Linked DNA regions of Homo sapiens. The protein of the gene in region 1 purifies or fractionates together with the protein of each later gene. This does not show direct contact. Each region holds a gene or a part of one and is shown in the gene's direction. Other genes may lie near its edges. The genes, in order: TENM3, TRDN, CLEC4A and TSPAN15.

Evidence for each region.
Region 2: the proteins of TENM3 (region 1) and TRDN purify together in Homo sapiens (co-immunoprecipitation; one large-scale study listed by IntAct). This does not show direct contact.
Region 3: the proteins of TENM3 (region 1) and CLEC4A purify together in Homo sapiens (co-immunoprecipitation; one large-scale study listed by IntAct). This does not show direct contact.
Region 4: the proteins of TENM3 (region 1) and TSPAN15 purify together in Homo sapiens (co-immunoprecipitation; one large-scale study listed by IntAct). This does not show direct contact.

Annotation. Positions count from the first base shown.
Region 1 is NC_000004.12:182,240,522-182,249,395, forward strand, and holds the start of TENM3 (teneurin-3), read left to right. Parts: upstream 1-2,880; 5' UTR 2,881-2,955; intron 2,956-8,874.
Region 2 is NC_000006.12:123,496,198-123,504,456, reverse strand, and holds part of TRDN (triadin), read left to right. Parts: intron 1-555; coding exon 556-738; coding exon of another isoform or gene 739-806; exon of another isoform or gene 807-2,629; intron 2,630-7,204; coding exon 7,205-7,264; intron 7,265-8,259. UniProt on the Homo sapiens protein: Contributes to the regulation of lumenal Ca2+ release via the sarcoplasmic reticulum calcium release channels RYR1 and RYR2, a key step in triggering skeletal and heart muscle contraction.
Region 3 is NC_000012.12:8,133,278-8,140,782, forward strand, and holds the end of CLEC4A (C-type lectin domain family 4 member A), read left to right. Parts: intron 1-491; exon of another isoform or gene 492-1,575; intron 1,576-2,307; coding exon 2,308-2,459; intron 2,460-3,510; coding exon 3,511-3,626; intron 3,627-4,862; coding exon 4,863-5,010; 3' UTR 5,011-5,330; downstream 5,331-7,505. UniProt on the Homo sapiens protein: C-type lectin receptor that binds carbohydrates mannose and fucose but also weakly interacts with N-acetylglucosamine (GlcNAc) in a Ca(2+)-dependent manner. Involved in regulating immune reactivity.
Region 4 is NC_000010.11:69,495,234-69,503,492, forward strand, and holds part of TSPAN15 (tetraspanin-15), read left to right. Parts: exon of another isoform or gene 1-17; intron 18-360; coding exon 361-456; intron 457-2,975; coding exon of another isoform or gene 2,976-3,046; coding exon 3,047-3,163; intron 3,164-8,259. UniProt on the Homo sapiens protein: Part of TspanC8 subgroup, composed of 6 members that interact with the transmembrane metalloprotease ADAM10.

The DNA of each region.
Region 1 (8,874 bases):
GGGAGATGTAGACCATGTGTCATCAGCATGCTGATCTCAGAGTGAAAATGCCTGACTTTTCTTCAAGTTATCTTGCGTGCACTTTGAGCATGTGGGTGATTACCATCAGAGCCTGGCAATTCTCCCTGCGAGTCCCGGCCCTGCAGCCCACGAGAGCAGGGAAAGGCAGGATCTAGCAGGGTGTTCCTCATGGTGCCATTCCCCATGGACACAGCCTGGGAGGTCTTCTGTCCACCCAGAGAGCCTGGAGCAGGGAGACAGTAAGGGCCTGGGATGGAATGCAGCTCCAGAGGCTGCTGTTTTGCCTGTTTGTCATAGGATTACTGTATTACAGGGCTTTGAGACCAGCCTGCTATGTCCCCTCAGATCTGGCCTCTGAGGCCCCTGGGCAGGATGGCATTTTCACTGCCTCTCTTTCCCGCTCCACTGACCTTCACTCAGTATTTCCTCCTTCTCTGAAGCCCGCTTCTCATCACCACCTACAGCCTCAAGGATGCCTGCTTGCATCTTTGAGGCTTTTGTCATCGGGCTTGAAGATTTTTTTCCACATGGTCCCCTTAATCTGCTCCCATTCTTGACAGTTTAACACTCGTGCTGAAATTTCATTCCTTGCAGAGTTGGGATTTTCATGTGAATCGTTATAGCTTCTCTCTGGTTTACCATTGGCTTCCCAGAGCTCAGCTTCTGGGCACTTAATAAATGTTCATTTAATCAATTACTATCCCAATACTTTGTTCTCTTGTAACAACAGTTTTCACCTCCATTTCTGACAATGCTTTCTTCTGATTCATTCAATAATGAGAGGTCAACACACATGTTCTCTGTTTTTCTCTAACAAAAAAGACATGCCTTCATCCCTTCTTCTGTTCAGTGGTGCCCCCTCTACCTGGGCCCTGTGTGGCATTCCCCTCTGCTTCCTCTGGATCCTTGGCTCCATTAATTTTTTTCCACATTCTCCTATCTTCAGTCGCTTCCTTTTCCCTTTCTTTTTTCTTTCTTTTTTTTTTTTTTTTTGTGAGGCGGAGTCTTACTCTGTTGCTCTGTTGCTATGCTGCGATCTTGGCTCACTGCAACCTCCGCCTCTCAGGTTCAGGCCTCCTGCCTCAGCCTCCTGAGTAGCTGGGACTACAGGCATGTGCCACCATGCCCAGCTAATTTTTGTATTTTTAGTAGAGACGGGTTTTCCCATGTTGGTCAGGCTGGTCTTGAACTCCTGACCTCGTGATCCACCTGCCTCGGCCTCCCAAAGTGCTGGGATTACAGGCATGAGCCACTGGGCCCGGCTTTCCTTTTCCCTTTCTTTTTCCAGACAGGTAAAATGCACAAGGCTTGACCGTTCTTTTAAAAACGCTTCTCCACTGAAATGACTCTCCGTGGTCACAAATAACCTCTTTATTCCTGAAGCCAGTGGACCCTTTTCAGTTTTGCTCTCATCTGTTTTCTCCACTGTCAGCCACATGCCTTTTCCACCAATTTGCCTTCTTTTTTTTTTTCCTCTCTCTTTTTTTTTTTTTATTTTACTTTAAGTTCTAGGGTACATGTGCACAAGGTGCAGGTTTGTTACATATATATACATGTGCACAAGGTGCAGGTTTGTTACATATATATACATGTGCCATGTTGGTGTGCTGCACCCAATAACTCGTCATTTACATTAGGTATATCTCCTAATGCTATCCCTCCCCACTTCCCCCACCCCATGACAGGCCCCGGTGTGTAATGTTCCCCTTCCTGTGTCCAAGTGTTCTCATTGTTCAGTTCCCACCTATGAGTGAGAACATGCGGTGTTTGTTTTTTTTTCCTTGCAATAGTTTGCTGAGAATGATGGTTTCCAGCTTCATCCACATCCCTACAAAGGACATGAACTCATCCTTTTTTATGACTGCATAGTATTCCATGGTGTATATGTGCCACATTTTCTTAATCCAGTCAATTTGCCTTCTTAAAACTTCTTGGTGGCCCAGCACGGTGGCTCATGCTTATAACCCCAGCCCTTTGGGAGGCTGAGGTGGGTGAATTGCTTGAGCCCAGGAGTTTGAGACCAGCCTGGGCAACATGGTGAAAACCCGTCTCTACAAAAAATACAAAAATTAACCCGATGTGGTGGCACTTGCCTGTGGTTCCAGCTACCTGGGAGACTGAGGTGGGAGAATCACCTGAGCCTGGGAAGTCGAGGTTGCATTGAGCTGAGATTGCGCCAGTGCACTCCAGCCTGGGTGACAGACTGAGGCCCTGTCTCAAACAATAAAACTTACTGGTTTTCCTGCCTGATTGCTTTCTCTGAACTGTACCCTAGATCTTCCTACCGTGGTGGTTCAGATGAGAGATGATGGTAGCCTGTATGTGGGTAGTGCTTATCAGAGATGGAAATAAAATTGACAAGAGTTGATAATGTATTAGAAGCGGAGGCTAAGAGAGAGGTAAGCAAGATAATCACTAGGTTTCTGACTTGCATAATTGGGCGGTGATGTCATTCACTGAGATTAGAAGCATTCCAGGGCGACTATGTGGTAGAGAGGCTACAATGAATTCAACTTTAGATGTATTGGAGATGTGTTTAGAATGTCTTAAGGGTAAATGTCACATAGGCTTTTATTTATTTATTTATTTGAGACAGAGTTTCGCTCTTGTCGCTCAGGCTGGAGTGCAGTTGGGTGATCTTGGCGCATTGAGACTTCCACCTCCCGGGTTCAAGCAATTCCCCTGCCTCAGCCTCCTGAGTAGCTGGGATTACAGGCATGCACCACCACGCCCAGATAATTTTTGTATTTTTAGTAGAGGCGGGGTTTCACCATGTTGGCCAGGCTGGTCATGATTTCCTGACCTCAAGTGATCCGCCCACCTCGGCCTCTCAAAGTGCTGTGATTACAGGCATGAGCCATCGCACCTGGCCATGAAGGCTTTTAGATGGGTCTGGAGCTTGGAGGAGAAGTCTGAACTAAGGATAAACTAAAGGTAAGTTGCTGAGTCATCTGTAGAGAGGTGGGAATTGAGGGCACGGATGAGACAGCCTAGAAGAAAAGGAGGAGAAGATGAGAAGAGAGTATCGAGGTATTGGAAACTGGGGAGGGCAGACAAGTCTAAAAAGGAGACTGGAAAAAAGTAGTTGAAGATGGAGAGGGCAAATCTGGGCAGTGTTGGGACACGGAAGCTGAGGAAAAGAGCAGTTCAAGATGCTTGAAATGAACACACCAAAAATACTGTGAACTATTCAGCACGTCCTTGTTTTATAAGTAAAATTCATAGTCACATCAGCGAAATAATTTTAAATGTATGTCTGTTGACTTAAATATTGGTTTTCTTTTGTGACTGAGGTTCCAGTACTTAGGAAAGGAAATGAAAGAGAGGCAGGGCACTCAGGGCTGACTGTCTTCTCAAAGTGCTAACTGATAGACTCTTCCAAGAATGGAATCATTTGTGTTTTCTTTTTTTTTTTTTTTTTTTTTTTTTGAGACGGAATCTCGCTCTGTCGCCCAGGCTGGAGTGCAGTGGCGTGACCTCGGCTCACTGCAAGCTCCGCCTCCCGGGTTCACGCCATTCTCCTGCCTCAGCCTCCCGAGTAGCTGGGACTACAGGCGCCCGCCACCACGCCCGGCTAATTTTTTGTATTTTTAGTAGAGACGGGGTTTCACCATTTTAGCCGGGATGGTCTCGATCTCCTGACCTCGTGATCCGCCCGCCTCGGCCTCCCAAAGTGCTGGGATTACAGGCGTGAGCCACCGCGCCCGGCCTCATTTGTGTTTTCTATTAAAACATATAACCCAGGGTATTAGACCACCATGGTGGTCACGGCGATCACAAAATATTTTTAACTGGTTTGCTGTGAGCTGATTTAGTGTTCTGAAATTTTATTATCTTGACTGGTAGAATTATTGGAACCAGCCATACATGTTAGAGTGATTGACAGCTACTTCTGATGAGGCTTTTATTGGATCTCAGGCAGCCTGCAAGTCACTGTCCTTTGCATTCAGATGCATTTATTTCCACAGCCTCCAGGGTAGCTAATGTTATTTTTCCTTCCCATTCCGAAATTTTAAGATGCCTCAGCTTTAGCCTGGCTCCTAAACTGATGGACAAGAGGAGAATATGAAGAGGAAGACGGGTCTCCTGGAATCCTCAGTTCCCAGGCTCTTCCCTCCAGTGGTCCAGGAACACTTTTGTCCCTGTCATAGATTTGTGTAATTCTCATGATGTGTAACATATGGAAAGAAAAACCAAGTTTTGTGTAGCCTAATAGATAGCTGTTTAGGAAACCATTCCAACTGTCCAGCTTTCTGAGAGTTTGCAAATATCACTTTACTTCTTACATTAATAGAGCCTCATGCAAATCAAATCATGTTGAACTTTATTAGCTATGCTTGATGTTATTTATGTTCTAATTAAATTAATGAGAATCTTGCATTTCTTCACAAAATTAAATTTCTAGAGTCTCTTTTTATTGTAATGTCTACATTCCATAATCAATGAATGCTTTTAATCCTCTGCAGTGATACTTTCTAGTGTTTTGGGAATGAAGCAAAGGCTTCAGAAACATTCAAAACAATCGAGTGTTAGGCTGTGCTATTGTTTGTTTAATGGGCAGAGGTCACTTGCTATGGGAATACTGAGGGTCTGCATGCTGGAATCATTCTCTTTTTGCCCAGGATGGGATCATTGGGTGAGTTTACTTAATCCATGGGCTTTGTTTCCCAAGACTGTGTCAGGGAACAAGACACAATTGTTTCCAGCCCCAGAGTCCTCTTGAGAGAGTGGCTCCAGCAACTTTGCTCTGTCTCATGTGATGTAGCATCCTCCGGCATCATTTAGAAAAGTGAAAGAGCAAGTAGAAAGGAATCTATCTGATCTTCATTTCTTTGCTGTTGTTGTTGATTTGTGTCACACATTGCTTCTCAGGTGGCCCCAAGAGTAAATCAGAAATTCCAATTGAGATTGCAAATTTTGTTTTAATTCTCTGTTGCTTTTCCAGCAATCAGTGCTTTCCTTTAAATTCTGTCTCGTCTCCTAAATGAAGGCAGCGTCGTGGCCCAGTTTGGGTCTCTGTTTAGCAACTGTGGTCTGTTTGAACTGAGGCAGTCCACATGTTACTTCCATTCTTTAGATTAATGTGATGACCGTAGTCCCTGCCAGAATCTTTTGGAACCAGTTATCCCAGGATATTGACATGTGACACGGCCATAGGACTGAAAACTTCCTCTCTTCCAGGGCCAGCCACAGGAGAGAGAAAGGGATTAAGAGGCTACTGTTGTGTCAATGCTGCAACTTGCTTTAGGACTCTGAGCTGGTTTCTTAACTTTTCCGTTGATGAGCAATAAAACCAGTAGAACAATAACTGCCTTCAGTGATTTTACAGATTTGTGTTAGTTAATAAATATAGGAATTTAGGGAAAGCTGTTTCTGATTTATATTTGATACCGATGTAACATTTTATTGGCGGGCGCTCCTGCTGGATCCTCACTCTGTGGTTAACAGTGACTCCTTTTCTGGTAGCACTCCCTGGCTCTGCAAGTCACGGGAAATAGCGTAAGAGCTCACTTGTCTCTTATGTTGAACAAACAGAGGCAGCAACCGCTATGGCAGAGGGTGGCACCTTCTGGCTATGTGTTTTCCTAAGTGGCCTGAAATGAAACTCCTAGAAGTTGTCTCATTGATAAAATGAATGCAATCTAGGTACCACTAATTATCTAACCCCGGGTCATCAGCAGGATTTACCACCACTGCCAGCAGCCCCAAGGCATAGGGGAAGAAAGAATTTTTTAAAAAGAAGTCATGGAAGCAACACAGAGAGAAAAACAAAGCAGCGCTTATGAATGAGATTCGCTATGAGCCCCCACCCCCGCCCCTCAGGAATAACATTTTAGATAAGCAGTGGACACGAAGCAGGCCCCGCTCTGAAAGAGCACAGGAGGTAGAAATGTCTTCCTTTTCTAGGATATAGATGGTGTGGGTATCAAAGCCATTGTTGACAGGAAGGAGGTGGTGTTGGATAAGAGACTAAAAATAGAGCCGGAGTAGTAGTTTGAATCCAGCAAACCAGCCCTCCTTCTAAAATTCTGCAGCACGATCCCATCACGTAAGAATGTGTCTCGTCCGTATGTGACAAAGACACGGTTTTATTGACCTTAAACAAATGGGCTATGTCTGCCAGAAAAGCTTGTGCCGTCTTGACTGTATTCATAAGAAATAGAGAGATATGAATCATGCCATGTAGGTTCCAGGGCGGGGGCGTTCCCTCCCTCTCGTCCTTCGCTTTGCCTTGCATTATTGCAGACGACAGCAGTGCAGGGATGAACTCACTTTCTAGGGAGGAAGCCGCCAGTAAATAACTAAACAAAGAAGATAAGTTCCGATAATCATCGCTGTTAAACTGAGACTAAAACGAGAGATGAGGTAGTGACTGGGAGTGGAGGGGAAGTTGATTGAGGTGGATCACGAGGGATGCCTCTCTGCGGAGGCGATGCCCACATCGAAGCTCTCAGGATGAGACGGAACCAGCCGTGTGGGCAGCTGTGGGAGGACGCAGAGATGGGCAAATGTAAAGATGCGAAGAACACCAGAAATGGTGTTTTTGAAGGACAGAAAAATATGAGTCGAGCTAGAATCTAATGAGCAAAGAGAAACGAGTTAGATGTGATTTTGGAAAGGGAAGGCAATGTGTTTCTCTGTGTGCTGATCAGTCCTGAGGTGCTGCAGCAAGAAATTGACATATAGAGGTGGATACCAGAATGGTGAGGAGTTTGGAAGAAAAACCCTATGAAGAGCGCAGTCGGAACTGGGGGTTGGTTGTCTTACGAAGAGAAGACTGGAGAGAGAGCCATGATAAATGTCTGATTATTTGAGATGTGATCTACTGGAAGCATTACACAGATGATGGTTCCATAGAGTGGCCCTCAGACCATTGAAAGGGGCCATGGCTAAGGCAGAACTCACCCGCCTTAGAAGGAAGCACTTTAACCCTTGACCTCATCCATCCAAAAATGGAACGAGCAGCTTCACAAAGCTGCGCTGTTAGTTTCTAGTCACAAAGTGTTGTTAGGCAAGGACAGCTTTAATTTACTAGATTTTAAGATTTTTCAGGCCAGTGACTTTGTTTTCTGTCCATGTTATATCTCTGGCAAGTACCTGCGGGTGGATGCTCAGTCAGTGTTTACTGAAATGACAAATAAGTAAATCGCAGTAGCAACTGGACCAAGGATGGCTCAGGCAACCTCTCAGATTATACCTAATTCTAGGATTTTATAATTCTGTGATATGAGTAAAAGCAGAATTATTTTCAATACTTAACAAAATTTTATTGGGAAAAATAAAGAACTGTGAACATTGGTGAGAAGTCTTAAAAATAACTTCCCAAACTCTAGCAAATGCACCCTCACCCTTTCCCTGCAAAGCTCCCCACGCAAACTCTTCTGTGTTTCCTAAGCCATGAAGTACAATAGTGCCATTGCTGTTTGTCAGTGACATAGAAAATATTATTTAACTTTATTTAATGGGGGATTTTCAGATAATTTGGACTTCAAATATGCAGTTTTGAAAGTTGATCTGAAATACATCACTTATAATTGCCTTTAGGCTTTTAAGCAAGCATATATGAAATACATTTCATTATTTTATTCACTATATTTCAGTTAAAATTTGCTTTTAAAATATAAAGTGCCTGGGTGCAGCAAACCACCACGGCACACGCATACCTGTGTAACAAACCTGCACGTTCTGCACATACATCCCAGAACTTACAGTATAATAAAAAAAATTTTAAATAAAAATAAAGTGTCACTAAAAAAGTATATCAATAGTCTTAGCCTTATTGTCAAAGAAAAAAAATGGAAATTCTTAGACCATTTTCATCATTCAGAGTATAAAAAATGTTGACATGTACTCTATTGTACAGTGATCAAAGGCATTATTGTACATTCTTTAATTTGAGGTGATTCTTCTAATGTGTAGTACCAATTATTCTGATCTCTGCTGAAAAGTGATGACATGTGGTATTTTTGTTTAACATAGATCTAGTAAGTTGGGTAATTTAAGTAGATGGTTAAATATACTCAGTACCTGAAATAAGCTTGCGTATATGAAGCTTTGATTTATGGAACTGGCGGAGATTCAGTCAGTAACAATGTAATTTTAAAATAGCATCTGCATTGAGTGGATTACAAAGGAGACCACGATTTTCCTTCATTCATTCAACAAATAATTACATGCCTACTACGTGCCAGCTCATATTTGAAGGCCTGGGATACCACAGTAAACCTGACAAAAACCCTGCTGTTACCGAGTTCCTCATAACTACCAAAGGGTTGCAAATGAGATGTGGAAAGTTCTTTATAACCATATATATCTACAGAGCACTTTATAGTTTACAGAGCACTTCCCCAAACACCTTTAGGCCTCTAAAACCTATGAAAAAGGTGCAATAGTAATAGCAATAGGACAATAACATAATAAACATGTATTGAGTGTTTACTATGTGCCAGACCCTCCTCTACAAACTTTATATGTTTTAACTTGTGAATTTTCAGAACAACCCTGTGAGGTGTATAGTTTTATTCCGATTTTGCAGATGAAGAAATTAAGACACAGACAGATTAAATTCCTTGGCCAGAGCTGCATAGCTAATAAGTGGTAGAGGACATGCTATCACCCACACCACCAGCTGTGGAAATGGGAGTCATGTGGTCATGAGTTACCTGGGTCGCGCAGCCAGATGGAAGTGGAATTTAGGTTTTCCGATTTCAGGGCCAGTGCTTTTCTGAATGCACTGCAGCTGCCTACCTCCAAGCAATGACATTGTTAAAATGATTAGTAAGCTTTTGCTGAGTTAAGCTGTGATAACAAATAATCCCCAAATCTATGACTTACAACAAAGGTCTATTTTTT
Region 2 (8,259 bases), on another chromosome or scaffold:
ATTGTTTTATTTCTGTTAGTCAACACCAATGCGATAATTTTACACTTGCATTACTAATTGTTGTCTTTAAAAAAGACTTTGTTGGCATTTCAGTTTCTTGAATGACCCTTAAGATCTTTCAGTTATCAAGCAAAATGATCATGTGCTTATAAAAGGAGACTACTTCACTGGGCTGTTTGGTATGGAAATTGTCTTTCACAGAAATTCCTGTACATCCATCCCCTGCATGCTACAAATGCCTCCTTGTTGACATGCTAAGTTACTATTGCCTTAAAAAATAGTGTTTTCATGTACAAATTAAAAGCCATAACACTTTTAGTAGTCTATCTAATATAGCACTTCATAAACTGTATAAAACTCTGGTAAGTCACAAGTGTTTATGTTAAGAACAGTATTTTTCATTGTTTTCCTGAAAAATACTGTTCTTAACATAAACACTTGTGACTTACCTTTCTTCCCTCTTTCTTTTCCAATTTTCCTTAATGACATAGTACAGATGAAACATTATGTTTGTAAATAAACAAAAGTATTTCAACATCTTTTAACTTTATACAGAACAGAAGAAAGCTAAGACTGCAGAAAAGAGTGAAGAAAAGACTAAAAAGGAAGTGAAAGGTGGAAAACAGGAGAAAGTGAAGCAAACAGCTGCAAAAGTAAAAGAAGTACAGAAAACACCATCAAAACCCAAAGAAAAGGAGGACAAAGAGAAAGCAGCTGTGTCAAAGCATGAACAGAAAGGTAAACATTCAGAGCAGGAGGCTGCCGGAGGTTCTAAGAGAATATTGGGCAAGAAGCACATGCAGTGAAATTAAAAGTTGAAAAAGACCAAAATCAGACTTCAAATGGGGGTAAAAGACATTAAAGTAAATATATCAGAAAAGAAATACAGTAAATTGGGAATTAATATTTATTTATAAAAATACTAAAATGTGTTCACAGATCTAAAGGGGCATTTTGAAGTATTTTTAAAAGGGGTTTGGAGGTAGCATCCGAAATCATATAAAGATTGGGGATAAATGTTGAATTTTTGAGATATGGAATGTCTATTAAGAGGTGGAATAAAGATTGTATGTGTCATACTCTTTGGAGGAAAGTGGTCCCCCAAAATGACAGCAATTCCTAAGGAGTTTGTGAAGGGGTACATGTTGGAATCATATAGAGTAAATATCATAAAAACTATCCATACATTACTGTTGCATTGGCAAGAGCACATCATTTAGAATATACATCCAATTATTAAATTTATTTAATAGGCAAGATGTTATAGAGAAGACAGTTCTCAAGTTTCTTTTTCAGTTTCCATTGACTAAATTTCTAACTTTAGAAAGCTCTGAATGTGACATATTTCGCCATTCTTCAGCAAGAGTGATGTCAAACTTACATCCCCACTTTGCAAAAATATATCACTTCAATGGAGGTGGCATATAAACCTGAATTTTTATTTTATGGAAGGTTGCTATGTGAATATACAGAGCTGAAGGTTTAGGAGGGCAACTAAGGGTCTTATCGTACCACATCTCTGGCCCTTATTGAATGTTTCTTTTCCTAAGTCCATTCCTGACTCCAGTTTGCTGTATAATCCTGAGACTCCTTTACAGAATACGGGGATCTAACATGTAGAGACTATTCCTGTAATTGGTGTTTCTTGGAGACATTGCAAAACCAAATTTTTCTTTACTTTGTAGCACTTTTGACTAATGTTATCTAAGGACTGTATCAAAGAATTGGTTTCTATTAGATTTTAGTTTAAGAAATCTTACAATTTTATTACAGAGCAGGCTATTTGGAGGATGAAACTGAAATTAATTTTTCCTCATAAGGCACAAGAAATGAAATTTGCAATGCACTCGTACTGTATTTTCATCTTTTTTCTCTTGAATTTGCATTTGTAAACTTTGATTCACATGTAGTATTTGTCAACTCTGATTTATATGACAAAAGATACATATTTTAAAAATATATATTTTAAAAAGGAAAGATTTTTTCTTTTTTTAGTGATCTACAAACCTTTAAATTTAGATAATTTTAATTTATTATTTTAAGATATAAGTCATATTAAAACTTAGGAGCTCTAAAACTTTTTCCAATTTTCAAGGTGATTATATCACCATGAAAAAAATTTAAAAGTTAATTATTACTTCCATCAAAATTATGTCATTAATGAAATATTTTGGTAGACAAAAAGGATGAAGTAAGTAAAGAGAAAATACGTTGAATATAATATTTTACTGTGGTAAAAAAACAGCAGAAATAATCTTTGGATTCACTGGTATGATTACTTAGATCCTGAAATCCTTTACACTTTAGATTGCTGTTCAAAAAGAAAAATAATCACATGAAATCAGTGAAAACCTACAAAGTACATTCTAATTTTTAACCATAAATACAGAGTGTAAAAATTGATGCCAGTTATATTTGGAAATGTCAAAATACTTATCTAACAACTAGGAATGTGAATGTATTTTTTGATGTTAATTTTTCATATCTTTGGGGATTTGGGAGCCACATTTTATTGATAAAAACTCATCACCGGAACACTTTAAAATAATGTTTATTTTCCAGGCCACAAATATTGTATTTCATTTCTATCAGTAATCAGATTTATTAAAGACAGCATTATATTACCATATCCCTTTTCAGTCTACTATTTTTATTTCTACACAAAGAGTTATTTATCTATTAAAAGGACATTCAAATATCATTTAGAGTTTAAAACAAAAGCACAAATGTGATTTTATCAGCTAAACAATTGCAATTGCTAAAGCAAGTCTCAGTATTGAGAACAATTGCCATCAATTATATAAATGTATCATTAGGTAAGTATTCAAAACTTAACCTCTAATGGCAGATCAGACATATAAATATGTCATTTTATTTTTCATTTTTTGTTACTAAGCAAAGATTTAATTAAGAGCATTTTTAAATTAAAGAAAACTAATTACATTATGATTTTAGCTAAGCAAGATAAAGATATAGTTTTTTTTAATTTCTGAGGCTTTGGTTTTGAAAATTTTATATGATGACTTAGTTGAGTTAGCTCAACTAAGCTAACTGTTGAGTTAGCTTTTTGGGCAAGAGAATACTCATTCACATAGTTAAGTTAGACCTAATATGTTTGAGGCATTCTTTTCATATAGATTTCTAAATACTTCTTTTTAAAGAAATAAGGCTCATAGGTCCTTTACTCACTTGGAAACAGATTTTCACATGGGACACATATTTATTAGTAATTATTTAATTACATAGTATACATATGAATATATTCAATGTAGTTACTCTCAATATTGTATATGGAAATAATACATCTCTTTTTCTGCTTAAAGCATTAGGGATAAGATGCATATGTATATACACACCTACCATAAACACACACACACACACAGACACACACACACACCCATCAAATAATCTAGTTTTTATGAACCCATCTAAATCTGTTTGTAGAGTAGGAAGAGTTGGCATAGTCAGACATTGCTCCCTAGTTTTCTGATGACCTCTAGGAGGTCTGTGGGGAAGGAGAAACGAATTTTCCAGCTGCCACACACTTTGCTCCTTCACTCATTCTTTCTTTTAAAACAACTATTTGATATTTGTGGCAGGCAGAGAAAGTATAGCTAATGTGAATCTGTTATAGAGTACTGGACCACATGTGCCCCATCCTCATTACAGGTTTCTTAAAAATTTTTTGTTGTTCTTGACATTCTGCACCCAGAATGTATTTTCCCTTTGTTACTATTCCACAGGGAACACCAACTAGGTATCATTTGAATGACATCTATCACTGCTTCCTGAGAATCAAGAAGGAGAGAAATGGACAGCATGTGTTATTCCAAGAAGGATGTTTATTTGGGGAAAAAGTACTTACAATGATGAGCAAATTAACATTATATAAATTATTATCTCAGAACTATGAAAGTTAGAATGGCAGGACAATTTAGATTTTCTTTGTGAAAAATTTTCTGCTATAATATTTAAGTTGGGTTTAAAGAAACATTTTTAGAACACAAATCTTTCAAAATCAGGAAGGCTTGGTTTTTCTGTATTCTTAGATAGGTTAAGCAGATAAACTGGAGACTTCCCAACACATACCTACCTAGAATTCTTATACGTTGTTAAGGTCATTGCCAAGGACAGGTGGAAATGGGCATCCTAACTTAAAATATTTGAAAATTCCTATCAGCTTTGATAGGAATAAAAACATCTTTCTCATATTCCTATTGATATATTGGTGCCATTAGAATACAAGATCACAGCACTATTTACATATAACAAAACCTTCTAAGTGTTGTAACAAATAATTTTCTAAGTTAAAAAACATCCTCTGAATTCATAAGAAATTTCCTTTTTGCAATTAGAAGTTCATTGGGCTGTTGGTGTATTAATTAAATGAATGATTTTTGGATCTAGGAAATATAAGAAATATAAGTAAGGTACAGTTGTCCCACAGTATCTGTGGGGGATAGGTTTCAGGATTCCCTGCAGGTACCAAAATCCACAGATGTTCAAGTCTTTTATATAAAAGGGACTAATATTTGCATATAACCTATACACATCCTCTTGTATACATTAAATCATCTCTAGATTACCAATACTACCTAATGTATTTAATAAATGCTTTGTAAATACTGGTTATACTGTATTGTTTAGTAAATAATGATAAGGAAAAAAAGTCTGTATATGTTCAGTACAGACCCAACCATGGTAGCTGTAACTATATATATATATATATATATATATTTTTTTTTTTTTTTTTGAGCCAGAATCTCACTATGTTGCCCAGGCTGGAGTGCAGTGGCACAATCTCAGCTCACTGCAACCTCTGCCTCCCGGGTTCAAGCAGTTCTCCTGCCTCAGCCTCCGGAGTAGCTGGGATTACAGGTGCCCTCCACCATGCCCAGCTAATTTTTGTAGTTTTAGTAGAGATGGGGTTTCACTATGCTGGCTAGGCTGGCCTTGAACTCCTGACCTCAAATGATCCTCCCGCCTCAGCCTCCGAAAGTTCTGGGATTACAGGCGTGTGGTTTGTTGAATGCTCCAATGTGGAACCCAGGGAAATGGAGGGCTGACTGTACTTTGATAATATTTCAACATACAAGCTGAAAAGTTTCATTACATTGTCAGCATTCAGCTAAAGAAGACTCTCTGAAGCGTGAAGATTTTAATTAATTCAGTACACTCTTCAACATGTTATGTATATAACTATCCCATCACAACATGGGGCAGATAATATTTCATTTGGAGGGGATGTTATATTAAAAATACTCCCTGCATTCTAAACTTCCAACATACATAAAAACAAACACTCTTATTTGCTGTCATGGGAGTCTATAGTGCCTCTAAGAGTAATTATTTTGGGAAAAAGGAATGAAAGGTTTTAGATCAGTGATTCTGTAAATGCAGTCTAATTAGATTCATCTAAGGAGTTTGTATAAAATGCATATTCCTAGGGTCCAGATCCATGGCATTTTAATTTTTTTTGGATGATGGAGCCCAAAAATCTGTATTTTGACAACTCCTCTCTCTTTCTCGTGTTTAAGTTGCCCTTTGAGAACTACTCCTAGAGTATAGGCAGAACAAATCTAAAAAGAGTACAGTCACTTAAGGTACTGAAATAAAGGGAACATACTGCCGATTTCAGAAAGTCCACACTGGTCTGACTTCAAACTTTTCATTTAAGGGAAATGTACTTTTTCATCTTGCTTTGTCTTAGAGTCAAATTGCCAGTTCTACAGTTTTGTTCAGGAAAACAATCTCATGTCTAGAAAAGAGAAAATACCTTCTACCTTAACCTTATGTCTTTCCCAATCATAGGGTTCCCAGGTCCTGGGATCAGAAACTCCAGCTATTACTGCCAGTACATCAAAGGGCAAATCAATGCATGGAATGACCTGAGGACTAGCCTCCTTCCCATTCCCTACCTCTCCTGTGGGAAAATGTGCTCCAATTTCAACAACTAAAATACATCTAAATTTTTGGAACTTTATGAGTTTTGGCCTGCCCTTATTTAGGTATTAATGAAAAAGATTATATTTTTATATCTTCTTCAATAACTATATTTATTTTTTAAAGACCTAACAGAATTTCATAATAAAATGGATTCCTCTAAAAATGCTGTTACTACTCTAAAAAGAACGAGATTTACAAAAATCCTTAGAGGTGTATCTGTTTAGTAACAAGCTTTGTTATTTCATATGTTTGATATGCATAATTTGGAGCAATTAAGAATGTAACATGTTGCTTAAATTCAATAAACTCTCTTGGTCCTAAAGCTGCCTTCGGATTTGGTGGATTAATAAAATGCATATTTCAGGAATATTGAAATGTAAATTATTTCATAATATGTATGCTTTAAAGCAGATACGGTAAAGATTCATCAATTGAGCTTTGAGTTGGATTGACCTCAGGAGAATCTAAAGTTCTGTGAGGATTTAAAGTTAAGTGCAATGTCTTTAATCTAGAGGGAATAGAAAAAAAACCAACTCCTGAAGACCAGGTCTGCCCAAAATGATGTTTACATACTATGTTTTTTTTGTTTGTTTGTTTACTTTCACCATAGGCCATAAACTAGTCAAGATCATAAGATGATCTTAAGAAGATTACTCATTTGATTAGTTTAACAACAATATCATTTGGTTCTGTTACTCTGTTCTTGATTTACTCTCCCAATTAAAGAGCATTTTTATTCAGAGGCCACCTAACAGGTTGCAAAGAGGTTAGTTCTCCTGATAGTCTTTTGGAAAAGACATTCTGCTGCTCCATAGAGACAATTAGCAGAAGGGCTGGAACTGAGTATTTGATAAAACACTCCAAGTTGGAAACAATTTCCTCTTGTGAAACTTCTGTTTCATTATTGAAAGTTTATAAAATGACAAATGGGAAAAATTGCTTTAATATGATGACTTTTGTAATCAATTATTTGACAAAATAGGTTTTTATTTTGAAAACAACCACTATAAGATTACCCTGAACTAGTCCTTTTCAATTTTTGAGGTTATTTTTGTATGGAAGAAATGAAGCATTATATTTGTCGTCTTTCTTTCCTTCTGTATTTTCATATAAGTGCAAATTATTTTTTTTACAGAAAATATTGTAGTAACCAAAATAGAATTGTGCTATTTTGTTTGCTTTGTTAAATTATTTCTCTGTAGAAAAATGAAGTGTTGATGACATTTTTTCATTGCTCTTTTTCTTTCTACTCTGTCAGATCAGTATGCATTCTGTCGATATATGATTGACATATTTGTCCATGGGGATTTAAAACCAGGTATTCCAAGCAATTCTTGTACTTGTCTGTTTTAATAGTCTTTGTTTCTAAGATTGTGGGCTTTTTATGTACCTAACTGTATTTTCATTTTTTAAAAATTGCATAATGCATGTGTAGATCTAGAATAAAACCAATAAAAAGCGGTAATAACTGGCATTAAGGTCTTAATTTTACTTTCAGTCACTGCATGGCCTATTGCAAATGAAGTCAGTTGAAATGTAAAATATGTGCTAATATCTCTCCATATAAGGAATGCTAAAATCTTTAATAATGTCTTGAAGTGAAGCAGTGAATCATCTTATTTTATTCTTGGTAAACTTAGAAGAAAAGACCCACGACAATGAAAATATCTTTCTTTTCTTAGTAGTGAACACAATTCATATTAAAATCATCACATTTCAAATATTTATACTTTGTTTTCCAAAACTTTAAAATTTTCTCCCTTATACATGAACTTGGTTTAGCCACTCCAAAGAACTATTGATGGAGATAGATAATCTTGGAATTAATATTCAAAACAATGGGGAAGGATTTTGAGTTAAAGGAATATATCTACCTTGTCTTGTATCTTTAATTGTTGCCCAGAGTATAAAAAGGTATTTTTTACTAACATCTGAACTAAGCATGAGTAACTTGATTGCTTGTACTATGCCTTTTGCAGATTTAAAAACTGACAGAACTATGTTCATGTTTGGGAAAACTTTTCCAAGAAGACAGTATTGTTAAGGAAGGAGCTCATTTATATTAGAATAAATGAAGCTAATTGCTTAAAGACAGCTATATTTTTATTTTCTTAACTATTTTTGTGAAAGCCTTTCAAAAATATATAATTATAATTTATGTGTATGTCATCAAAGAGACATCTCATTTCTAAAACAAATAGGTAACACATCTAGGCTCTAGAAAACTAGACAATGAGAACCTTTGCACTCCGGAAAATGTTGTTGATCCCAGTAATTTATTCTAGTTAAATAATTTCCTCCTCCTCCCCTTTT
Region 3 (7,505 bases), on another chromosome or scaffold:
CGACCACAGGTGATCCGCCCGCCTCAGCCTCCTAAAGTGCTGGGTTTACAGGCGTGAGCCACTGTGCCCAGCCTTTTCTGTCTAGTTTGTTTCTGTTGCTCAGTTGACATTTTCTGTTGTTTTGTCTTCCAATTCACTAATCTCTCTATCCCCTTCATTCTGCTGAGTCCATCCACTGAGCTTTTTATTTTGGTTATTATATTATTCAATTATAAAATTTCCATTTTTTTTTTTTTTGTCTATCTACTGTGTTGAGGCTTCTTTATTTAAGAAAAAAGTGATACATGATGTGGGATTAAAATCAAGAACATCATTGAACTTCACCTTCCCTCCAACCAGTTGCCCCAAACTCCCCTGCCCCCACCCTTTGTGTTCCCAATTCCTTCCTTAGTGAATGAAGAACTTAATCCCAAAAGCCCTGGCACAAACTCCAGGTGCTCTTTCCCTAGCTCCTCCCCTCCCCCTGTCCCCCATTCCTAGAAGGGCAGGCACCTCAGTTTGAATGCATGGGAGAGCCCAGAGTGGTGACGGAGACAGGGGGAAAGGCTTCCCCCTCAGGGAAAGGGACCGAGGAGTACAGTGCAGTGAAGTGAGGGCTCCCATAGCCTGGGGTACCAAAATGGGGCCCTGGGGCCAGAGGAAAGGACACTGGTCCCCCTGAGAAAGGAGACCCAACAGCCTCAAAATCCTCTCGTTGTGCATAGCCACTGCTTGATCGCTTGCCCTTCTGGCGCCGGTTACAGAACCACACTCGGACCACATCCTTCTCCAGCCCAAGCTGCTGGGCGATGTGGCTGATCTGCTGCAGTGTGGGTTTCGGGCACCGCAGGAACAAATTCTCCAGGTTGCCTCTCACTTGGTTCTCGATACTGGTTCGCTTTCTCTTTCGGGCCTGCACGAGGGTTTCTGCTTTGCATATCTCCTGAAGATTTTCATTGTTGTCAGCTTCCTCCACCCACTTCTGCAGCAAGGGCCGCAGCTCACACATGTTCTTGAAGCTAAGCTGCAGAGCCTCAAAGCGGCAGATGGTCGTTTGGCTGAACACCTTCCCAAATAGAACCCCCAGGGTGAGCCACATCGGCCTGTGTATATCCCAGGGTGATCCTCTTCTGCTTCAGGAGCTTGGCAAATTGCTCGAGTTCTTTCTGCAGAGCTTTGATGTCCTGGGACTCCTCCGGGTTTTGCTCCAGCTTCTCCTTCTCCAGCTTCACGGCACCAGAGGGGACGGTGCAGGGCTCCGGGGAGGCCCCATCGGAGTTGCTCTCCACCCCGACTCCTGCTTCGCCCTCAGGCTGAGAGGTCTCCAAGCCGTCTTGGGGCACTAGCCCCACTCCAGTCTGAGGCCCACAGTACGCCATCCCCCCGCAGAACTCATACGGCGGGGGACATGGGGGAATCCCCCACTCCTCAGAGCCTGGCCCAAACCCCGGCCCGATTCCTGGCCCTCCAGGAGGGCCTTGGAAGCTTAGCCAGGTCCGAGGATCAACCCAGCCCGGCTCCGGCCCCCCTGGCCCATCACCTCCACCGCCTGGAGGGGGTGAGAAGGCGAAATCCGAAGCCAGGTGTCCCGCCATGGGGAAGGAAGGCGCCCCAAGCATGGTGAAATCTTGGTTTTTCTTTATATCTTCTAGTTCTTTGCTGAAACTTTCTAGTTTTTCATTTGTTTCAAGCATGTCTGTATCTTCTTGTTGAAGCGTTTTTGTTTTTTGTTTTTTTTTAATCATGGCTGCTTTTAAATCTTTGTCAGATAATTCTAACAATTTTATTATCTTTTTTTTTTTTTTTTTTTTTTGAGACAGGTTCTCGCTGTGTTGCCCAGGCTGGTCTTGAACTTCTGGGATCAAGCGATTCTTCTGCCTCAGCCTCCCAAAGTGCTGGGATTACAGATGTGAGCCACCGTGCCCGGCCCCATTTTTGTTGTCTTGATTGTAGGCATCTATTGATTATTATATTTTATTAAATTTGAAAACTTACTGGTTCTTAGCATAATGACTTATTTTCTATTGAACTCTGGATATTTTTGCATTATATTCTCAGAGTCTGGATCTTATTTAAACATGTTTTCGTAATAGCTGGGCTTTTCAGATGGCACTTCAGCAGGAGAAAAGGGGCCCTGCCTCATTACTGCCTGATTGAGGTAGACTTGGCTTCCTTGACACCTGAGGGGCAGGGGCTCCTGGTTGCATCTGAGTGTGGAGGGGAGTTCCAGCTTCCATGTGCTCTCTCTTGGCTCTTAATTTTAATAATACACACACTTTTAAGAGTGATTATTTATATTGCACGTATGTGCCCCTCTTCCCAATACAGAGACAGCCTGGAGCTGTTGCCCAAAGAATTGGAAGTCATTTAGTTCCAACTGCTACTTTATTTCTACTGAATCAGCATCTTGGCAAGACAGTGAGAAGGACTGTGCTAGAATGGAGGCTCACCTGCTGGTGATAAACACTCAAGAAGAGCAGGTACTTTCTAATAGATAATGGGGCTGTGAGCCCTGCCTGATCTTTGTATATCTCTCTTGGCTAAGAAGGAGGTTTTTGTTACTTTGGGATATTTGCGCTGTGGCAGAAGGCTTTCAATAAAATAGGTAGAAAGGGCTCCTAAGCCTTTATATTCCATACCTCCTTCCTGCTTCAGTAAAACTAACCTCCCCGGAAGAAATTGTGACATTAAAAATATATGAGGGTTGAATGGAAGGATGAAAATGTTTCAGTCTGAAATATCAATTTGTTATTTCAATATGTAAATGTTTTATACATGATTAACTACTTAACAAAGAAGAGGTATTAAGTTGAATAGAGAAAAGAAATAAAGTTAACTCATGATGAATCACAATCAACACTCAGGAATGAAAATAAAGAATCCCTGAAGTTATGAAAGGAAAATGACTGAATCTGCCAAAATTTTCTCATGTACAACTTTGAAGAATGTAATCCCTTAGTGAAGAAAAGAGGGGAAGTAAACCTGAGATGAGAATTCATTCTGATCATAGAAATTGCTTCCATACTGGCTGGGCATGCTAGCTCATGCCTGTAATCCCAGCACTTTGGGAGGCCAAGGCGGGCGGATCACTTGAGGCCGGGAGTTCAAGACCAGCTTGGCCAAAATGGTGAAACCCAGCCTCTACTAAAAATACAAAAATTAGCCAGGCATGGTGGCACACACCTGTAGTCCCAGCTACTGGGGAGGCTGAGGCATGAGAATCGCTTAAGCCTGGGAGGCAGAGGTGCAGTGAGCCAAGATTGCACCACTGCACTCCAGCCTGGGACAGAAAGTGAGACTCCATCTCAAAAAAAAAAAAAAAAAAAAATTCCTTCCGTATGTACTGAACATCATGCTTACAAGCGATGTCTTTGATTCTGCCCTGCTCAGCCAGAGATCCCCATTCCTACGTAGAGCTCTAATGCAGCTGTTGCTGGATCCTCTCCTTTTCTTCTTGTTTCTCTAAGGTATTAAGAATTCAGTTTAAGCTGAATACTGTAAAGGCTGTGACTCCTTCTTTTCCCCCCTCAGGATTTCATCTTCCAGAATCTGCAAGAAGAATCTGCTTATTTTGTGGGGCTCTCAGATCCAGAAGGTCAGCGACATTGGCAATGGGTTGATCAGACACCATACAATGAAAGTTCCACGTGAGTATAGAATGAGATAAAAGAATCTTGGGTCCTGGATCATGCAGAGAGCTTAGGGTATTCTAGCTATCAGCTATAAAAGTAAAATAGCTCACTCTTCTTTTAGCTCTTGGGTACTAGGTTAAATAATTTCATTATCTCATTTAATCTGCGCAAGAACCCTATGAGGCACACATTGTTATTTTTCCCACTGTAGATATGAGGAAATTGAGCTTGGAGAGTGTAGATAATTCAGCTAAGGTCACCCAGTGGTGTCAACAATTGTTCTCAAATCAGGTGGATCTTACTGTGCTTTTAACCCGTATATTTACCTGTCTCTACATAGTGAAAACCCATGTTGATTAAGATCATAACCAATTATTAAGATTTAATAATGCTTTTTTTTTCTTTTTTGAGACAGGGTCTTACTCTGTCAACCAGGCTGGAGTGCAGTGGTGCAATCATGGCTCACTGCAGCCTTGAATTCCTGGGCTCAACTGATCCTCCCACCCAAGTCTTCTGAGTTGCTAGGATGACAAGTATGTGCCACCACACCCAGTCAGGCTGAAGATGTAATGCTTCTTATGAAGCAAAAATGCTAAATTCTGATAATCTTATATCTCATATTTATGTAATTCTTTAATTGCATAAATTACATACTTTACATATATTACATAAATTACATAAAATACATACTTTACTGGATTACCACCTTCGATCTTCATATCCACTGTATGAAATAAATAGTGATATTACTCTAGTCCTTATTTTTTAGATAGAAAAACTGAGAATCAGGGAAGTTAAATTACTTGTCCAATAACAAGGATAAGTAGAAGATTCAAAAGATTTTACTAGTTCTCTAGACTTTAAAAACAGTGCATTAAAAAAAGGAAAAAACTCTATTGATAAGTGGGACCAGGGTAAAATCTTTTCATCATACAAGGACACCCTATAGGTTGATGGACCCATAGGAACAGGACATAAGGATGGACAAATAGAAGAGAACCTCTAGAAAATCTATGGTGAGGATATTCAAAGCAGTAAGGTAGAGAACATTGAGTGACATAGGCACAGTTTTCAAAGGAAATGCCGGAAATGCAGATGGAGGAGAAGCTGCATGATGAGTAGCAGAAAGGTGGATTTGGGCATATCTGACCCTATGTTCCATGAAATTCATCCCTCGCTCCTCACCCCTGTCTCTAACCCTTTTCAAAGCTCTGTTTGAAGAAATGCCCTCATCCTTTTTGTCGCTTTCAGATTCTGGCATCCACGTGAGCCCAGTGATCCCAATGAGCGCTGCGTTGTGCTAAATTTTCGTAAATCACCCAAAAGATGGGGCTGGAATGATGTTAATTGTCTTGGTCCTCAAAGGTCAGTTTGTGAGATGATGAAGATCCACTTATGAACTGAACATTCTCCATGAACAGGTGGTTGGATTGGTATCTGTCATTGTAGGGATAGATAATAAGCTCTTCTTATTCATGTGTAAGGGAGGTCCATAGAATTTAGGTGGTCTGTCAACTATTCTACTTATGAGAGAATTGGTCTGTACATTGACTGATTCACTTTTTCATAAAGTGAGCATTTATTGAGCATTTTTTCATGTGCCAGAGCCTGTACTGGAGGCCCCCATTGTGCACACATGGAGAGAACATGAGTCTCTCTTAATTTTTATCTGGTTGCTAAAGAATTATTTACCAATAAAATTATATGATGTGGTGTCTCCTCCTGTCTGGTTTTCTCTTCATCCCTACTATACTGATATATAATTGTATATATATACTGACATATATATATATTATATTTTATATATATATTATAATATATATATATACACTGACAAATAAAATTGTATATATTTAAGGTTTACACTGTGGTGATTTGACATACATATATATTGTAAAATGATTACCGTAATCAAGTTACTTAACCCACACCCATTATCTTACATAGTTAACAATCTTGTGTGTAGTGAGAACGTTTAAGATCTACTCCATTCTGTCCATTGGTATCAACAAACACAAAGCAAGATCTACTCCCCAAAAAATTTCAAGTGTGCAATGCATCATTATTAACTATAGTCACCATCCAGCACATTAGATCTCTAGAACTTCGTCATCTTAGAACTGAAAATTTGTACCCTTTGACCAACATTGCCTGATTTTCTCCACTGCCCTCCATTCCCTCACAACCATCATTTTACCCTCTGTTTCTATGGATTGACTTTTTAAGATTCTACATATAAGTAGAATTGTACAGTATTTGTCATTCTCTGTATGACTTATTATATTTCACTTAGTATAATGCCCTCCAGATTCATCCATGTTGTGCAAATGACAGGATTTCCTTTTTTTATGGCTGAATACTACTCCATTTTATATACATAGTACATTTTCTTTATCCTTTCATCCATTGGCCAATACTTAAGTTGTTTCCGTGTCTTCACTATTGTGAATAATGATCCAATAAGCATGGAAGTGCAGATATCTGTTCTAGATAATGATTTCATTTTCTTTTGGTATATACCCAGAAGTAGGATTGCTGGATCATATGATAGTTTTATTTATATTTATTTATTTATTTATTTAGAGATGGAGTCTCATTCTGTCGGCAGGCTGGAGTAAAATGGCATGATCTTGGCTCACTGCAACCTCTGCCTCCTGGGTTCAAGCGATTCTCCTGCCTCAGCCTCTCAAGTAGCTGGGATACAGGTGAACGCCACCATGCCCAGCCAATTTTTGTATTTTTAGTAGAGACGGGGTTTCAGCATGTTGGCCAGGATGGTCTCGATCTCTTGACCTCATGATCCACCTGCCTCTGTCTCCCAAAGTGCTGGGATTACAGGCGTGAGCCACCACGCCCCGCCAGATAGTTTTATTTTTAGTCTTTTGAGGAACTTCCATACTGTTTTCCATAATAGCTGTACTAATTTATATCCCCACCAACAGAGCACAAAGGTTCCTTTTATCTATATCCTTACCAATACTTGTCAGTTTTTGTCTTTTTAATAATAGCTCTTCTAACAGCTGTGTGGGTGGTATCTCATTGCAGTTTTGATTTGAATTTCCCTAATGATTAGTCATGTTGAACATATTTTCATGTACCTGTTGGCCATTTGTATGTTTTCTTTGGAAAAATGTCTATTCAGTTTCTTTGCCCATTTGTAAATTGAATTATTTGTTTTTTTTGTTGCTGTTGAGTTGTACAAATTTCTTACATCAAGCTTGTCCAACCTGTAGCCTGCAGGCCACATGTGGCCCAGGATGGCTTTGAATGCAGCCCAACACAAATTTGTAAACTTCCTTAAAATGTTATGAGATTTTTTAGCTCATTAGCTGTCGTTAATGTTAGTGTACTTTATGTGTGGCCCAAGACAATTCTTCCAATGTGGCCCAGAGAAGCTAAAGGATTGGACACCCCTGTCTTACATATTTTGGATATTAACCCCTTGTCAGATATATAGTTTGCAAATATTTTCTCCCATTCTGTAGGCTACTCTTTCATTTTTTGATTGTTTCCACTGCCGTGCAGAAGCTTTTTATTTTGATGCAATCCTATTTGTCTATTTCTGTTTTTCTTTCCCAGTTTTCTTTTTTTAAATGAAGTTGAATATTTTATTTCTTATTTTGCTTCAAAGCTGTTGCTTCACTGTATAAAAATAGCACCAGCAAATGTACTATCTTGGGAAATTAAGATAGTGTTGTTCTTCATCTGACACTGTATGTACATCCACCAACAAAAAGTTCTCTACTCCCAATTACTTCCAATGGAAAGATGATTAAGTATTTTGACCCAAATCCAGATATTGATGTAAGCAAGTTACAATATTATATTAGGTTTAAGACAACAATGTTATCCTTGAATTACATAATATTAATAACTAGGTTTACCATAGATAAT
Region 4 (8,259 bases), on another chromosome or scaffold:
GGAACCAGGACAGCCAGGTCTCAGCTCAGGCATGGCGGCATCAGAGCTGTGTGTCCCCAAGCACGGCCCCAGCCTCTCAGGGCCTGGGCTGTCTGGTCTGCAAAGGGAGTGGAGTGAATTACTCCTGCTGGGACATAGCACAGGCACTCAGGCATCAGATGAACACTGGAGGCACGGGGAGGATGTGTGGGTAGGGAGGTCACGGGCATCCAGGGTGGGGAGTGGAGGGGGCTCCATGCTGGCTGGGCGCGAGCTGCATTGGCACAAGGCATTCTCTACCCATCCAGGCTTCTGGAAAACCTTGGGTTGGACTCCGGGAGTGTGTGGTTCTTTTCCTTTGTAATTTCTCCTTTTGAATAGACCATTGACTTCCTGAACGACAACATTCGAAGAGGAATTGAGAACTACTATGATGATCTGGACTTCAAAAACATCATGGACTTTGTTCAGAAAAAGGTGAGCCAGGCGCTTTGGGGTAGAGATGCGCCTCCCGTGCTCTTAGCCCCCCATTCAGGCCCCTGCTCAAGAAGATGGGGTGAGGGACCAGGTGACTTATCCATTCCCAAAGCAGGTGGCTGGCCAGATTGGGAGGCAACAGTGAGCATGGATGGCCCACCAAGGATGGGGAAGCCAGGGCCCAACCTATTCAGCCAGTCCTCTGCCCACATTCCTGACCCAAAACCTTCACACCCTTCTGTTCCTCTCCAGTTACACTGGCTTCCTGCCCCATACCCCCAAATAAAACAAAGTCAGGTGTTGCTACAAGCAACCTTGCAGGGTCCCAGGGCACCACCCTCCAATGGGCAAGGATCCTCCTTCCTTGAGGTGTGAGCAACCTCAAGGGGAGTAACCTACCCCAGTCCAAAGCCCCCTCTGCCAAGTCTCTTCAGTGACAACTCACTCCTTGTCAAGTTAAAGACATCCCTGATTGGGAGAAAGTTCTTCACTAATTTCAGTTTCCCCCAAATATGGGACAGTGAACCAGACGCCTCTCTTACTTTCATGACACTTCCTTGAATGTGATGATGATCCTATTCCTTTTGGGACACCATCTCTCCCCTCTAGGTCCACCCAAATCTGTTGGTGCAATAATAATAATAATAATAATAATAATAATAATAATAATAATAATAATAATGGCAGTGGTAGGGCCAGCTGCTGTCCTGGGTGGCTTTTGTACATCAACTTCACTTGGTCCTGAGCCTCAGCTTCCTCACCTACATAAGGGGAATAATGACAGGAGCTCTTGGGGCGTCGTCATGAGGATTACCTTGACTTAATTCAGGAGACGTGCTTAGAACAGTGCCAAGCACAGGGTGAGACCACAGTGCCAGCTGTGGGGATCATTGGTATGTTCTCCTGGGTGAGGACAAGTAGAGTGAGGGCTGCAGGCCCACTCAGCCGGGACAGCACTTCCTGGGACATAATCTTGGGGGCCTCAGCTGGCCTGGATCCTTGTGCCAGCTCTCAGTGGGGACTAGCCTCTCCCCACATGCAGGGCCACTTGCTGTGGCCGCTCCCTTGGCCCAGACTTTCTCTTCAGTCACAACAGGTGCAGCCTCTGGAAGGTCTTTTTCTGCCAGGGATGTGCCTGCCAGCTTGGGCTGGGAGAGCTGACTTCTGCTCCGGGTGGAGTGAGATGTTTTTATTGGAACCAGCCTTTAGCTGGCTTGGGGATTTCATTTCTCCTGGCATAGAGGTAGGAGGTGATTAATGCTGAATGGGCACTTGCTTGGTGCCAGGTCCAGTGCTGAGTGCTTCATGCATGGCACTCTATGTAATCACAGCTCAGCTGTGCAGAGCTGCCATCCTTATTCTTGCTTTACAGACAACCATCTGAGGCTCAGAGAGGCTGACCAACTTGCCTGAGGTTGCACAGCAGGGAGTGGTGGTCTGAGGATTTGACCTTGGGTCTGTTCCATTGCAAGACAAATGCCCTTTGAACTACATTGCAGAAAGACAGTTCTAGGTCCCAAAACCTGGTGGCTTAAGGGGCACTGTGGGGACTCTGAAAGGTGTCTGGCTACCAGGACGTGTACTGCAGCCCTGGTTGAGCCCTCCAGTCCCAGCTCCCTGCTTCAGCTGGCTGGCAAAGCTTTGCATGGTCCAGCCTGTGCCGCCCTTTCATCCTCATGCTCTGCACTCTCTCTGTTCCAGGCTTGTTGGCCTCCGCACCTGCTGCTGAAATACAAGCTTGTTTCTGCGTGGGGCCTTTGCATGGGTCGTCTGGCTTCTTTCTGTTTCCATGTTTCAGATGAAATATCCTCTCTACAAAGAGCCCTTTCATGACCTGCCAACCTAGAGCTGCCCCTCCCCACTTTCCCCCTATTTCTCCATTTCCAGGTTGCACAGCACCTTTCCATCCAGTGCTCACTCTCTGTCTCTCCACTGGAATGTGTTCCACCTGAGCAAGGGCTGCCTTGCTTTTGCTCACCCTGTCTCTCCAGTGCCCAGGACAATGCCAGGCACATACCAGCCATCAGGAGGGTTACCAACTACTTCCTACAGGAGCAGGGAGGGGAGGCAGGGAGGGGCTCGGCTAAGGGGAGAGCTCCAGGCAGGTTGTGAGGTGTGGGTGCTCTCCTTGCTAAGGGCAGGGCCAGCTGAGCTGGACGGGGTGGCTCCTAGGGTGGGTGCGAAGGTTGGTTGAGGTGCAGGGACTTTCACAGAATCATGCTTGGTCTCTGGGACTTTAAGGGCCATCTTTTCCAGCCTAGCACCTGCATTTGGGGACACGAAGATGAAGAAAGTGGAGGCCAGTTGTCAAGGAAGGACCTTTCCTCCCAGTGCCTAGTCACTACCCTGATATCCCACCAAGAGGCAGCCCAGCCTTGGCTTCCATACCTCTCTAGTGACAGGGGGTTCACTACCCTCTAGGCAGCCATGCCACACTTTGACAGCTCTGACTTGAAAGTGTACAGCCTCTCCCTGCCCCAGGGTGACCCACATAATAAACTGCCTCCGTCTCCTGACAGGGCCCCTTCCTGTCGTCTGAGCAGGGCCTGGGCGATGACGGCAGCTCCTCTTTCCTGCTTGCTTCCCTCAGTTCAAGTGCTGTGGCGGGGAGGACTACCGAGATTGGAGCAAGAATCAGTACCACGACTGCAGTGCCCCTGGACCCCTGGCCTGTGGGGTGCCCTACACCTGCTGCATCAGGAACACGGTAGACACTGCTCCTGTGGGGACTGGGGGGCTGTCGGGGACCCCAGGTGGTATAAATGTTCTCTTTTCTCTCTTCCCAACTTGAAGATGGGTGGTGTGGGTGGATGGCAGGGAAGTAGGAGTTGGTGGCAGAGCGGAGGCTTTCCTGATTCTCAAGGGCTCCTGAAAGTGGAGCTTCTGGGGGTCGGGGGTAGGGAGACCATGTCTTTCTTAGTGGTGTTGGTTAAAATCTATTGAGCACCTACCTTGTGCAGGCCTGCTCTGGGCACTTTGGTGGTATTTACTCATTTAGTATTCACGACAACCCTGTGAGGTATGTACTGTTATTTTACCCACTTTACAGATGAGGAAATTGAGGCACTCAAAGGCTGGGTGTCTTGCCCAAGGTTGGCAGGGCTGGGATGAAGTGCAGGCAGCTGTTGCCTGAGCTACACTCTGGAGAACTGTGCAGGCCAGGTGAGGGCAGGAGGGAGAGGTGCCCAGGCCAGGGGAGCTTAGCGGGGGTAGCTGGCTCTGCAGCATTAGTGGAGGCAGGCAGGACCTGCACCTTGGGCATCTCCATTGGTCTTTGGCCTTGAGGTCCTGGTGATCATCAGCAGCAGAGTGCTTGGAAGGGGGTCTGGTGACGTAAATGCCATCCTCTTCCTCTCCCCAGCACGATCCTCTCGGGTCTGTCACCTTGGTCATTTGGGATGATGTCTTGTGTTGTCAGCGCTTAAGTGAAAGGCTTCATCAGTCCTTGTGTTTGACAAATGTGTCCAGAAACTGTTTCAGGATTGGAACGAGGTGGAGAGCTTTGCAATTACTCATGGCCCAGATAGTCATGGAAAGTTTTTCTCCTGACATTGCCACCATTCTGTGCCCACTGCTGGATTCTGTAAACTGAGCAGCTGCGGGTGGGGGCCTCGCCCATGAGTCAGAGAGCCAGTGCCAAGTGCACTAGCTCTAAAAAAGGCCGGGCCAGGAGGGAAGCTTTGTTTGGAAGTGTTAGCTGCCATTTTAGGGTAGTTCTCTGGGAAGTGGGGTGCTGAGGAGTAGCAGAGTTTCCAGAGAGGCCTGCGTGGGGTGATCCTGAACCTCATCACCCAGGGCAGCAGCATCTGAATACCTAAGCTGAGATGTGGAAGCCAAACTTGTATTCATTCATTCATTCATTCATTCAACAAATATTGGCTGAGAACCTACTCTATGCCAGACACATTTCCAGGTTCTGGGGGTGTAGCAAACAAAGTCTCTGCCCGCAAGGAGGTGACATCCTAGTGGAGAAAACTGACAAACAAAATAAGTAAAAGATAGAGGATCATAAATGCTGAGTAGAAAAAGAAAGTAGGGCATGGAGGATTGCAGTTTGGGATACTGAGAAAGGCGGGATCTGGGTGAAGCTCTGAAGAAAGTGAGGAAGGTGTCTGGGGGAGGGGCATTCCTGGCAGCAAGAACAGCTGTGCAAAGGCCCCAGGTGGGAATCACCCCAGGGCGTTTGAGAAATGCACAGAGTGGCTGGAGCAGAGGGAGCACAGCGGAGGATGGTAGGAGGTGGAGTCAGGGAGGTCATGGGTACCCCGAAGGCCACAGGCAGGACTGTGGGGCACCCTTGAGTGATGGACCATACAGGGCTGCATGGAAGAGGGGCACTCTGACTTGGTTTTACAAGAATCAGTCTGGCTGTTGTGAGGGACATGCTAGATGCAGGGATAGAGTTAGGGGCTGATATGCAGTGATCCAGGGGTCATAGGTCATCTTGTCCAGGAAGGTGCTCTTGGATCAACACCTGTGGAAGTGGGAGCCAGAAGCGGGATTGGGCAATGAAGGGAGTTGAGCAGTGATGCAGCCTCAGCTCAGTTCGGCTGGAGGCCTCAGCCACATCTATGAGGACAGCCCTTCAGAGTTGTCCCCTACTGGGGTGAGGGGGCCAGGCCTTCACACTCCCACCCACATTGACCAGGCATTGCATGAGTCCAGTGGTCCACCCAAGAAGGGACTTGCTGGCTCTGTTCAGCCAAGAACAGACTAATACAGCAAGAGGAAAGAGAGGGATTGATTGATGATAAGGAATTGGCTTGTGTAATTATGGAGGCGGGCAAGTCCCAAGATCTGCAGGGTGAGTCGGCAGGCTGGAGACCCAGGAGAGCTGAGGGTGGAGTTCCCATTCAAAGGCTGGTCAGGCTTCAAACCTAGGAAGAGCCAGCATTTCAGTTCAAGCCCGAAGGTAGCCAAGCAGGGAGAATTCTCTTATGGTCACTGAGGAGAGGGCAGTCTTTTGTTCTGTTCAGGCCTTCCCTGATCAGATGAGACCTCTCCCCCTTGGGCAGGGCCATCTGCTTTACTTAGTCTGCTGATTTAAACATTAGCCTCATGCAGAAACACCCCCACAGAGACACCCAGGATAATGTCTGGCCAAATATCTGGGTATCCCATGGCCTGGTCATGTTGACATATAAAATTAATGATCACATGAAGTAGTTATTGCAGGGGGCTGACACCTAAGGGCTCCCCACAGCATCCCTGCACCAGGGAGGGGAAGACAGATGCTTGGAGCTGGGTGGTGGTGGTGGTGGTGGAAGTGGCAAACCGTGGTGACATTCTGGCTGTATTTTGCAAGTAAGCCTACAGGATTTGCTCGCATAGCAGATGTGGGCGATGAATGAAAGAGAGAAATCAAGGAGGATACCCAGGTTTTGGTCTGAGCCACAGGAAAGACGGGGCTGCCACTGCCTGAGAGGGGAGGACTGCAAGGAGGCAGGCTGGGTGACCAGGAGCTCACCGTGGACGTGGGGGGTTTGAGAGCCTGTTCAGCATCCCATCAGGGGTGTCAAAGATGCGGTTGGATATAGGAGTCTGGAGTTCTGGGAACGACTAGGCAAGGGGTGTAAACACGGACATCATCTGCAGATAGGGTAGAATCTAAAGACAGCATCTGAATGAGAGCACTGAGGTAGGGAGGAGCCTTCCCCTGGCCGGGGTTATCTGACCCTGTGTTACACATGACCATTGAGTCTCCCTGTGCCACCACACCTGGATGATTTTCTCTAAATGTGAAACAGGGCGTTCGCTTCCTCCATAGAACTGGTTGATTTGTGTCCAGATCTATTTATTTTACACTGTACTATTCAACCTGGGATTTGAATGAGTACACGGGAAATATGTAGTGTAAAAAACTAAAATAGCATTAAAAATCAGGACTGTGGGAATTGTATTCTCAGATAGGAGGCCTAGATGATGGAGAAAAATATAAAATCCTGCTATCTAAGCCTCAGGACCTCATGGACTCACTGAAAAGGAGCTGAGCCTCGTGTCTGGTGGCTTGGAGCAGGGCTCCCCTACCTCCAGGCCATGAACCAGTACCGGTCAGTGGCTTGTTAGGAACCAGGTCGCACAACAGGAGGTGGGCAGAGGTTGAGGGAGCATTGCCACCTGAGCTACACCTCCTGTCACATCAGCAGCAGCATTAGAGTCGCATAGGAGTGTGAACCCTATTGTAAACTGTGCATGCAAGGGACCTAGGGTGCATGCTCCTTATGAGAATCAAACTAATGCCTGATGATCTGAGGTGGAATGGTTTCATCCCGACACCATCACCCCCCACCCCCCCGCACCCCATCCTGTGGAAAAATTATTTTCCTTGAAACCAGTCTCTGGTGCCAGAAAGGTTGGAGACCACTGGCTTAGAGTTTCCTGGCAACCAAAAGGAAAAGGGAGACATGGTCTGTTACATTGTTACTGTTCAGCAGAACATACCAGCAGAACATACCAGTTCTTCAGGGAAAGTAACCTTTTCCCTAACACTCAGCTTTAAAAGAAATGTCTTATATGAGCTTCCAATAGAGGATTTGAGCCATAGAAGTTCACATAGGGCTGTAAAATCTGGTTATACCAGGATATATCCCTCGGAGATGTTGGTGCAGAGGGCAGCGTGCTTCTACATTAAATGGCTCCAGACTGCTGTGCCTGCTGAGCTCTTGGGACCAATTTTCACGTACCTCCCCTCCCTTGTTGTTGGCTACCCCTTGGGGGCCTGTCGCGAAGGCCCCTCTCCCTGTCCCCATTAGCTGCTCAGTCTTTTCAGGGTGAGAGGATGCACACACAAACATTGCTGTGATCTTCTGGCTGCCCAGGAGTCCCCCTTCTGACTTCCTGTCCTGTGGCCCCGTGCAGGATGGAAGAGGCTACTGGACCCTGGTCTTGGGGCCTGTGAACTTCAGCAGAGCCTCTTGCAGAATATCGATTCTATGGTCAGGCAGGTAAACCCAGGCAGGCTTTACTTTTGGAAAGACTATGGATGCATCGTATCCCCTCACCCCTTGGTGAGGGGCTCTCCTGGCAGGGTGAGGTGAGTCCCCCCTGGGCCTGGAGAAGGGTTCTGGGCTCTGATGCCAGAGAGGCCTCTGCCAGTTGCCTGTGTGCTAAGAGACTCATCCCCCGAGGTCACCAGAGCTGGCCCAGTGAAGTCACTCTTGTCACCTCCCTACGTACCATGCAGCTTACCTATTTGTTATGTTCATTATCTCCCTTTCTACAGTGTAAGTTCCATGAAGGCAGGGACTTTGTCTTGTTGTTCTGTATTTCAAGTGACTAGAACTGGGATTGACATGCAATAGGTGCTCAGTTAATATTTGTTCAATGAACAAATGAATGAACCAATGAGATGGAAAGCACTCACTCCCATCATGTGCCCGTGCACCTGCTCTCCAGGCCTGACCCTCTCCATAGGGGTTGTGTTTATGGCCTGGAAGGGCCAAAAACACTGGCTGACTAATGCCCAGTGGGCACTGGGCATGGCTGGGACTGAGGCTACCTGGAGAACCAGCTAAACCGAGGGAGGTCGTCTTGCCTGCACATCAAGCCCTGACATTTAGAATGACCTAGATGACATCTGAGGCCCAACCCTCTCTCGGAAGGAGAGAAGACACCCTCCCTTTCCTTTGCAGGGGCTGGAATTGTGAACAAATCACGCCAGCCAGCATTCTTGTGCTCCTCCATGTGCCCAGCCCCGTGATAAGCACTTTATATGTGTATCTCACTTTATGTCCAAAACAGCCCTAGGAGGTGGGTTCTGTGATCATCACAACCTATTCATTCATTCATTTTCTCAGTTAACAA